2 separate regions of the Homo sapiens genome follow, and region 1 is linked to region 2. Evidence: fine-mapped expression QTL. A gene starts in region 2. The other region holds a variant in brackets. All regions are shown on one strand. Distances are between the middles of the regions. Region 1 overlaps MOV10L1 (Mov10 like RNA helicase 1). Region 2 holds the start of TRABD-AS1 (TRABD antisense RNA 1).

Region 1 (5,365 bases), 67 kb after region 2:
CAGCCTCCTGAGTAGCTGGGATTACAGGTGTACACCATCATGCCCGGCTAATTTTTGGATTTTTAGTAGAGATGGGGTTTCACCATCTTGGCCAGGCTGGTCTTGAACTCCTGATCTCATGATCTGCCCGCCTCGGCCTCCCAAAGTGCTGGGATTACAGGCGTGAGCCACTGCGACCGGCCTAGAAGTTTTTATAAAATATCTTTGCAACATTCACAAAGTTTGCAAATGTTAACAATTTGCGGGGTGTGTATCCTTCCAGACATTTTCCATGCATACACAATCACATAAATGTACCTAAGTGTACACATAAACCATATAATTTAAAAATAAAACTCTAAGGCCGGGTGTGGTGGCTCACGCCTGTAATTCCAGCACTTTGGGAGGCCGAGGAGGGTGGATCACAAGATCAGGAGATCGAGACCAGCCTGACCAATATGGTGAAACCCTGTTTCTACTAAAAATACAAAAATTAGCTGGGTGTGATGGCACATGCCTGTAGTCCTAGCTACTCTGGAGACTGAGACAGGAGAATCACTTGAATCTGGGAGGCAGAGGTTGCAGTGAGCCAAGATTGCACCACTGCACTCCAGCCTGGGTGACAGAGCGAGACTCTGTCTCAAAAAAAAAAGAAAGAAAAGAAAAAAGAAAAAGAAAAAACCCAACTCTAAGGTCATATAAACATCTGTACTTTGCTTCCCCTATTTAATATATTGTAGCCATCTTAGCCCTGCATCTTAGCCCTTGCATATAAACTTTACACTAAATCTATTTTTGAATATTTTAGTTCACTTTATTTTAACTGCAATTTTGAGTTATTTGTGAACCACACTGCTCTAATACTCCAGTCAACTAAGCGCTAATACTCCGAGAAGGAAACGCCCACCCCCTGTGTAGACAGTTACATCGCTGAGCCATCCCCTGTGTAGAGACAGTCACGCCGCTGAGCCACCCCCTATGTAAAGACAGCCACGTCGCTGAGCCATCCCCTGTGTAGAGAAAGCCACATTGCTGAGCACTACCTTTTTGCTGGTGGACTGTCCACTGCTTTTGGTGTCTTGTGCATGGTTCCAATTTCCCGTCACTTGTGGAGACTGTAAAATAATTTCTTCTGGAAACAACACTTTTAAAACAAAAAATGGTAAGAGCACGGGTATAACTAAAAAGCTAAAAAAATATTAATAGAGGTTGTTTATGGCTGACCCTAAAGCAATTAATATTCTATTCCCTTCCTTTCTTAACCTGCCTGTTATACTGTTTCTAAATTATAGCATTATTAGTACTGCATATTCTTCACAACAAAGCCCTTTATTTGCCCATCTGTAAAAATTCATAAATTACATTTATGAAGGGAAAAGCGAGCAAGATAAATTTATTTTCGGTTATTTAAGCATGCTATTATTAGTTATTCACTAAGTTGAAATAGTAAGAAAACACTAAAACTTGATAGAAAATTAAAAACATGAATATAACAAAAGTTTTACTTCTAATATTATGACTGAAGAGACTATTTTACACAAAATTTTACATGAAGCCTATAAAAATACTCTGTGAAGATGTAACACTATCATTCTATAAAAGTAATACCTTTTACACCTAAGTGGATGACGTGTTCAAGTGCAAAGTGACACCGTCTGCTTGTGGTCCTGCAGGAAAGAAAACCACATAAAATAACTAACCTTACATTCAGAAATATTAAGGCTGGCATAAGGTAATGAAAATTTTATGATACAATCTTTAAGTCAATATAAAAAAATCACAGCAACAATCCAACAATCAATGAAATAGAGAACAGAAAAACACTAGAGAGGACGGGCGCGGTGGCTCACGTGTGTAATCCCAGCACTTTGGGAGGCCGAGGTGGGTGGATCACCTGAGGTCAGGAGTTCGAGACCAGCCTGGCCAACATGATGAAACCCTGCCTCTACTAAAAATACAAAAATTAGCCAGGCATAGTGGTGGTGCACGCCTGTAATCCCAGCTACTCAGGAGGCTGAGGCATGAGAATCACTTGAACCTGGGAGGCAGAGGTTGCAGTAAGCTGAGATGGCACCACTGCACTCCAGCCTGGGTGACAGAGTGAGACTCTGTCTAAAAAAATTTTTGTAAAAACCACTAGAGAATACCAAAGAAGCCAAAAAAAAAAGCATGGGACAAAATCCCACACCCATTCTTTCTTTCTTTTTTTTTTTTTTTTTAGAGACTCTGCTCTGTTGCCTAGGCTGGAGTGCAGTGGCACAGTCAGAGCTCACTGAAGCCTCAAATTCCTGGGCCCATGTGATCCTCCCACCTCAGCCTCTCAAAGTGCTGGGATTACAGGTGTAAGCCACCACACTTGGCCCCATATCCATTCTTGATTAAAAACTCACTAAAATAAGAATCTATCTCCTCAACCTGATAGAGGGCCACTACGGAACCTACCACCCACGCTGTACTAACTCGCTCAGGACTGACAGCCCTGCCCCTAAGACCAGGGACAAAGCCAGTGCAGCACTTGCCACCACTTCTATTCCACACTGGCACACAAGTTCCAACCAGCGCAGGAAGGCAAGGAAAACAAATACACAGCATCCAAATAAGAGAAGAAGAAGTAAAACTGTCTTTGGTTTTTTTTTTTTCAGACGGAGGCTTGCTCTGTCGCCCAGGCTGGAATGAGTAGCGTGATCTCGGCTCACTGCAACCTCCGCCTCCTGGGTTCAAGCAATTCTCCTGCCTCAGCCTCCCAAGTAGCTGGGATTACAGGTGACCACTACCACGCCCGGCTGATTATTTGTATTTTTAGTAGAGATGGGGTTTCCCCATGTGGGCTAGACTGGTCTCAAACTCCTGACCTCAGGTGATCCGCCTGCCTTGGCCTCCCACAGTGCTGGGATTACAGGTGTGAACCACCACACCCAACCTAAAACTGTCATTCTTTGAATCAATGATTATATATGTAGAAAATTCTACAGACTCTAGGAGAAGCTACTGGAGCTATTCAGTTTAGGAGACTTGCAGGATACAAGGTAAACATACAAAAATCAATTGCTTTTTATAAATACTAGAAACAAGCAATTAGAAATTTAAGTTAAATTTACTGTTTATAACAGCCATTTAAAAATTTTAAATAGGTATAACTGACAAAAGATCTATAAGACCTATACACTGAAAAGTATAAAATATTGCTAAAAGAAATGAAAACAGATGCAAATAAATGGAGAGACATACCCTTTTCAAGGGCTGGAGGACTTATTATTATTAAGATTTCAATTCTCCAATTCTCCCTTAAACCGACCCATAGGTTCAATGTAATCCCAATCAAAATCCCAACAGGCTTTCTGTAGAGA[C/G]TGACATGACCTAAAATCCATGTAAGAAGAAAGACCTGGAACAGCCAGACAACCTTGAAAAGGAACAAAGTTGGAGGCTTGATACTACCTGATTTTGAGACTTATCATAAAGGCACATATCATACACTAGGTTTGTGTTCCCCCCAGCTTCGTATGGTGAAACTTCATCCCCAATGTGATGTTACTGGGTATGAGGAGTTGAGGCCTTTGGCAAGTGATTAGGTCATGAGGGTGGGGCCTCATGAATGGAATTAGTGCCCTTACACAAGGGAGCACAGAGAGCTCTCCCATCCCTTCTGCTGCGTGAGGACACAGGGAAAAGACAGCCGCCTACGAACCAGGAAGCAGTCTCACCAGGACACTGAACCTGCTGGTGCCTTGACCTTGGGCTTCCTGACCTCCAGAGCATGAGAAATACATTTCTGTTGTTTATAAGCCACCCCATCTATGGTGCTATGCTAATGCAGCCTGAGTGTACTAAGACAGACAATAAGACCCTGTAATGTTGGTGTCAAGACAGACAAGTGTACAATGGAACACAACAGAGAGTCTTCAGAAACAGATCAACAAATATTTGGTCAACTGATTTTCTTTTTTTTTTTTTCACAAAGGTACAATAGTAATTCATTGGAGAAAGGGCAGTTTTTTCATCAAATAATGCTTGGACAACTGGATGTTCATTCCACCCTCCAATTTCCATTCATACCCCACAAACAATTTGCAAAGCTTAATGAGATAGATCATAATCCTAAATGTACAGGATAAAGCTGCCAAGTTTCTAAACAGGATAAAATCGTTGAGATCCAAATTAGTTACAGATTTCTGAGATGCATCATTAAAAGATCTGTGAAAGAAAACATTCATAAACTGGACTTCACCAAAATTAATAATTTCTGCATTTCAAAAGGCACTATAAAAACAATGAAAATACAAGCTGTAGTCTGAGGAAATATTTGCACAGACACGTATCTGATAAAGCACTGTACTGAAACTATACAAACATCTCTGCAAACTCAATCATGAGAAAACAATTTTTTAAAATGGGCCCAAAGACTTGAGGAAGGACTTCAACAAGTATTTTGTACAAATGGCAAAAAAGCACATAAAAAGATGTTCAGTGGCCGGGTGTGGTGGCCCACACCTGTAATCCCAGCACTTTGGGAGGCCAAGGTGGGCAGATCACAAGGTCAGGAGATTGAGACCATTCTGGCTAACACAGTGAAACCCCGTCTCACTAAAAATACAAAAAAAAAAAAAAAAAAATTAGCCGGGCGTGGTGGTGGGCACCTGTAGTCCCAGCTACTCGGGAGACTGAGGCAGGAGAATGGTGTGAACCTGGAAGGCAGAGCTTGCAGTGAGCCGAGATCGTGCCACTGCACTCCAGCCTGGGTAACAGAACGAGACTCCGTCTCAAAAAAAAGAAAAAAGAAAAGATGTTCAGCATCATTAGTCATTAGAAAAATACAAATTAAATCCACAACGAGATATCCCTTCACACTACAAGAATCAGCTCTGTTCCAGAGTCAAAGCAGGTCAAGGAGTCCAGGCCTGGACGTCGGCTGCAGTCTCTCTAGCTGCCATGATGGAGGCTGTGTGCCTTCTACCAGCGCTGCTGCTCCCTGTGGTCCCAGCCAACCCTCACACGTCATCATCCAACACAGCTGCCCCTTCCTTCCCATTCCTGGGTCTTCTCATGGCACTCACATGCTGGGGTCTCTCATCTTGCACAGCAAACAAAAAGTACCCCCCTCCTGGTCCTCCTGTATCTCTTTGGTCACCAATTTCTCTCGCTCTCTCTCCATCCTGCCCTCCCTGCTTTCATCGGCAAATGCCTTAAAAAGGAATCAACGACATTTCTCCATTCCCCCGTAGTCCATTCATTCATTCTCAATACATTCCAATCTGGCTGTAGCCCAAATACTGCCGATTTCTCAGACAGACATAAAAAGCACTAATATTAAAAAAAATTTGATAAATTTGACTATATTAAAACTAGCACCTTCTGTTAATAAAAAGACATATATATATAAAATTTATTT
Region 2 (5,365 bases):
AAGTCTCTTCCTTCTCACAGCCACTTCAGACGTTAGCCTCAATCTTGGAGAACTGGTGAGGCCAGGGACCCCAGGACACGTGTGGGGATGTCAGGCAGGGCCTGAGTAAAGGTCAAAGGACTCCTTAATTTTTAGGAGAAAATATATTCTAGCAGCTCTCAGGTCTGAAAGCAGTGAGTTAATACTCAAGTCTTCAAACATAAAAAGTGTCTTCCAGCGACAGATTACTCTCATAAAAAAAATTGTCTTTTTAACTTTAAAATATCACCAAAAATGAAAACATAAAGTTTAAGATGATCGCCAAAAAGAAAAACAAAAATTAAAAAAAAAAAATGCTCACAGGACAAGCAGGCCCCAGGCTGAGCAGCATTTCCACCACGTTCCAAGGGTCAGAAACGCTCCAGTGGGCGGCCGGTGCTGTCAACTCTAAGCAGGTCGCTGGGGGTGGGGAGGGAGAGCCAGAGCCAGGTTGCCCTCAGACACAGAACAGAACGGATTTGGAGACGGGGGAGTGAGGAAGACCCTCAGTCTGAGGAGCTTGCTTGGGAGATGGAGCCCCGGGGAAGGGATGCTGAGGGACCGAGGGGCATTTCAGGTGCTGGAGGGGGAGGTGATGAGAGCACAGGGAGGGGCCGGATGAGATGCGGGTTTAGCATTTCTCTGAACATAAAATGTACACTTTCCTAGTCATTCACAAAAGCAGTAAAGAATATGGAGTAAGTACATTGTTTAGTAGAAAAGAGCAGAACAGACCCAAGCGCTGTCTATACACAGGAGGCAGGTGGCGCGTGCACGGCTCCCCGGTGGGCCTGGCGGCATCTGGACCCAGATCCTGCCTTATTAGACCACCTGTGTGCCCCCCCACAGAAATCTAAACGATGCCCACCTCACTTCGGGGTTAAAAAGGGCTGCCCGCAGGGAAGTCAGGGCCAGGCCTCCGTGAAGTCAGTCGCAGAGCGAGGCTGCTGGACGAAGCGGCCCGCCCCACGAGCGATCGGAGGAAGGCTGGGGACCTGCGGGGTTAGGGTTAGGGTTAGCCTAACCTCTCATCCCGGCTCCCGCCCCTGGGTTTGGAGCCCCAGCGAACGTCGGTAAACATGAGCGGCGTCCCTGGTGGAGCTGACTCCAAGGTCCTCGGCGGGTTGATAAGCACAGGGCGCGGGCGGCTGCCAGCACCGCGCTCCCGCGGGTGCAGGGGAGGCCCCACTTGGCAGTAGCCGCCGGACGCCCCCAACACCGCGCCGGGCGGAGGGAAGGGGCGCCCCGGCGGGGAGGACCCACCCGCGCCCCTCGCCCGCCCCGGCCCACCTGGAGAAGGGCGTGGGCCCGGCGCCCTTGAGCTGCAGCTCCCAGCGCTCGCCGGTCGCCGTGCACACCTCGCCCAGGTACATGGCGGCGCCGTCGCCCAGCTGCCCGGCGAACTGGCCGAATTGGTGGCCGCAGTAGCAGTGCGCGGCGGGCTCGGCGCCCGGCAGGAGCGCGTTGCCGCTGAAGAACAGCGCGGCCTCGGCCTCGGCCTCGCGCGCGGGCGGCGCGCCCAGGCCCAGCAACGCCAGCGCGGGCTCTGACAGCGCCACGAGGCGCGGCTGCCGCAGCGGGGTGGGCTGCACGCGGGTGAAGCAGGCCCCGGGCACGGGCCGCGGCGCGGACGGGGCGCCCTCGGGACCGGGCGGCGGCGCCTCCACGGGCAGGGCGCGCAGGGCGCGGTTGTCGAAGCGCAGCCCCGCCAGCCAGCGAGGCGCGGGCTCCATGGCGGCGCCCGACAACGTAGAGCGGGGCGCCGGCGACGGGGAACAGCGACCGAGGGGCAAGAGTCGGGCAGCCGCGAGCGAAGCCCCGAGCGCTGCCCTGTATACGGCCATCCGCGGCCCCGCTCCCGCCGGAAGCCAGCCTGCCCCGCCCGGAAGCCCCGCCCCGCGCGTCCCGCAACCCAATCGCCAGTGGGCGAGAGTGGGGCGGGTGGGGGGAGGGGTCGCGGTGTCTGGCCGGGCTCTAATTGGCTGCCTCGTCCGTCTATCCGCATCTCCCGGCCGGAGGGTCGGAGGCGTCCGGGGTGGCTGTCGGCGTCACGGGGCGCGCGCTGATGCGAACGGGGTGACAGATGGGAACGCCTCCGAGACCGCCAGCGACGACCCCGCTCGGGCAGCCCCGGATTTCCTCGGCTGCACCGGCGCCGGCAGCGGGGACCGAGGCCCGCGTCCGTTCGGGTCGGGCCGGGGCTTAGCCCCGCGCCCCACGGGCGGCCGGGACCCCACCCGGACCCCGCCGCGGTTCTGGGCCGCCGGAGCCTCGCGCCGCCTCTCGGGGACCTTGTCCCCTGGCCTCCGGCCTCTCGGGCCCCTCGCCTGCCGTCTAGGAGGGAAGGGGCCTTGGATCTGTGCCCCGCCCATGGAACAGCGCCCGGGCTCGGAGAGGCCCCGCGAGGCCGCAGGCGCAGACCCTCCCGGAGGGCTGGGCGGGCACCGGGGTCTTCGGCTGGCTTGAGGGACCCGACCCCTGGGGGAGGAATTTGGGGTCTGTGTGTCCGAATGAACGCGGGGGTTCAGATGAGTCTGTGGTGCCCCCGCTTTCCATCTCCTCCGGCCCCGGCCCCAGAGGACTGTCTGAGAGGCCGGTGGCCGCGGATCCTGGACGCGCCTCCCTCCTGCCTGTGGTTTCCCTTTATTCCGGCAGCGGCGCGAGCCCACCCTTCACATACAGGAGCTACATCCAGAAGCTTCTCCTGGGGCCACAGCGTGGGCTTCCGAGACTCTGCGTGACCCCAGCTCTGCCCCTTTGGGGCTGCGGGTGAAGCCCTCAGGACCCTCCGCGTGCGTTGGGCAGGTAACTGGATGAGGGATAATGTGGTGAGGTCCCCGTGCCCAACCCTCCTCTGCAGCCCACAGCAACCGTTCCCTCTTCAGCAGCCCCCTCCCCCCGGCCGCTCTGGGCGCCCGTTCCCAGCATCCTCCTTGGCAGGTGTTACCCCTCCCCATTCCCCAGGCCCTGGGCCCTCCTGATCTGTCTCCTCGACCCCCTGGGGCCCCAGTCTGGCTCAGTCTGGTCCACACTCTGGAATCTGGTGGGACTGGGTATGGAGGGTCTTGAGTGTCAGCAGGCCACCTGCGTCCCACCTGGTGGGTGAGAAGGGTCCCACAGGTCAGCATGGAGGGACCCGACTCTGTCTCTTCTGCTGGAAACCAGGCAGGTTCCTTCCCCCAGGGCCCCGGCAGGGCCACGAGTACCCGCTGCACTGGAGCACGGGGGAAGAGGCAGGGATCCTTCATTACCTGAACCCCATGTTCACACGTCACAAAACAGGAGTTTCCAAAATTAGAATTTATTTCAGTTTCTAAGGAATGAATCCCCGAGTGTGGCAGGAAGGACACAGCCGGCTCCTGACGCACACCTGATTTGATTCAACACCGAGTCGGCACAGACACAACCAGAGATGGCCTGGGTCCAGGCTGGGGCTGCACGGGCTGTGTCCTGGACAGCCAGGAGGGAGGCCCCGCACACAGACGGCCGCCGGGCAGGGGGCCTGAGCGGGACAGGCCTGGCCACAGCCCATGTCCTTGGCCTTCCACATAGGTGCACACATTGTCTGCCCAGAGAGGGCCAAGATGCCCCAGGCACCCCTTCGCTCCGGGGGCTCAGGACACAGGCTCCCAGCTGAGGCCACGCCTGGACCCAGAGCTGATGTTTGGCTGCACGCGAGCCCACTCGGGACAGACCCAAGAACACGAATTCTCTCCCTTTGGATTTAAGGCTGGTGTTTTTTGACATTTACTTCAGTTTTTCTCTCTGAAATTAAAATTACCTGAGTAAAAGATTTTAAGACATTAAAAAAGCCAAAAACACAGAATCCCTGCAGGCAGACGGTGCCAGGGAGGTGGCGGCCAGGGCCAGGATGCCAGGGGCACGGTGGGGTCGGCTGGAGCTCCAGGGCTGGGCCTTTCCCAGTCTCGCCTGCCCTGGAGCCCCCAGGAGCCGCCCCTGGGCCGACGCTCCTGTGGCCGGAGCACAGGAAGGCACAGTGAGGTAGGGACAGTGGCCATTGTCCCCCGCCTGCCACCAGGGCTGAGAGGGCAGCGCACGCCTCGGCCCCTCCTATAAGCCCCTGCCCCCTCGGAGCTGGGTGTCTTGTCCAGAAGCTGGGGAACGGCCCCTGCAGTGTGGGAGGGGAGGGGCTGCCGGGAGGCCTGAGCTCAGACAGTTAAATAATCCTTTATTTGGGTGGGCTGGGGGAGGGGTGACTGGCCCAGGAGGGCAGGCGAGGCCGGGCCCAGACCCCCATGGGGGGTGGCAGGGGCCTCGGGCGGGCTAGGATGCACCTGGCACCCAGAAGTGCCGCGGGGGCACTGGCTCCTCAGGGGCCCGAGCGGGCGGGGAGCAGTCTCCTACTTGTGCCGGGCCTCGGTCACCCTCTGCAGGCAGTACTGCGCGGCGGGCAGCGACAGGACCAGGCTCGCGGTGCGGCGGCCCATCCAGTACAGGCTGTAGCCCAGCAGGCCGAAGAAGGCGGCCTTCACGGCCAACCGAGACACTCTGCCGGAGACGGACGGCGGGGGCACGCTGTGGGAGGGAGGGGGCGCTGGGCCTGGCTGGGGGTGGGCTCCCCATACCCCAGCCCCCATGCCTGGGTCACTGCCGCATGTGGTTGGCCTCCAGGGCGCTCAGCCTCCACCTGGGGGCTTGTGGGGTGGGGCTTGCAGGGAGGGGCGGGCACTCACGTCATGATCTCCTGGATGTTGAGGTCGGTGCTCCAGTTCTTCTCGATGCCAGGCACGTGGCCCATGCCCACGACGCCCACGACCACGGAGGGGACGCACTTCCTGGGCTCGGCTGTGGGGAAGGACAAGGGGTCAGTACCTGCTCGGGCCTCAGCCTCACAGGGGGTCCCACGCCTGCGGGCGGCCGTCACCGTCAGAGGCCCGAGGCAGCTCGAGGCGCCGCGCGGCCTGGCGCAGCATGTAGGTTAGGTAGACGTCGCGCTCCGAGACGATGGTGCGGTGCAGGTCTGGGAACTCGCCAATCATCTCGGCCATCATCTGCTCCAGTAGGTCCTTCTGCTTGCAGCGTTCCACGTCATCCTTGCTGTGGAGAGGGATGGCTGCAGCCCCGCAGGGATGGGCAACGGGCTGGGGGGGTGGGGCTGGCACTGTGGACACCGGGCAGGGACCACAGCACGTTTGTTTGGGATTTGTGGCGGAAGGAAAGGGCAGGGAAGGCCTTGAGTGAGGATTGGCTGCGCTTGGACCTGCACAGGAGGGCCTGGAGCCTCCCACAGACCACCCTGCAGGCCGGCCAGGGTCCCGGGGGCAGCCCTACCTGATGGGGTCTGACAGGAAGCACAGGCCCCAAGCCAGCCTGACCTTCTGCCAGA

Evidence for each region. PIP is the estimated chance that this variant, and not a neighbour inherited with it, causes the effect. A credible set is the group of variants that fine-mapping cannot tell apart.
Region 1: its variant is the best candidate, but not a certain one, in a credible set for the expression of TRABD-AS1 in whole blood (TOPMed, PIP 0.64).

The regions. Positions count from the first base shown.
Region 1 is chr22:50,130,288-50,135,652 of GRCh38, reverse strand. It overlaps MOV10L1 (Mov10 like RNA helicase 1), which reads right to left. Exons shown (of 27, transcript NM_018995.3): 14 at 1,588-1,646; 15 at 1,023-1,123. Among named protein-coding and RNA genes, the nearest start is that of PANX2, 38 kb to the left of the region's middle. The variant C/G (reference allele first, on the strand shown) is at 3,327.
Region 2 is chr22:50,197,534-50,202,898 of GRCh38, reverse strand. TRABD-AS1 (TRABD antisense RNA 1) reads left to right here and starts at 2,116. Exons shown (of 2, transcript NR_186698.1): 1 at 2,116-2,823; 2 at 3,571-3,811. TRABD (TraB domain containing) reads right to left here. Exons shown (of 10, transcript NM_001320485.2): 7 at 5,311-5,365; 8 at 4,904-5,076; 9 at 4,713-4,824; 10 at 3,304-4,554. The coding sequence ends at 4,380. It overlaps SELENOO (selenoprotein O), which reads right to left and starts at 1,888. Exons shown (of 9, transcript NM_031454.2): 1 at 1,309-1,888. The coding sequence starts at 1,862. RefSeq lists an enhancer at 819-1,058 and silencers at 1,419-1,498, 1,629-2,568.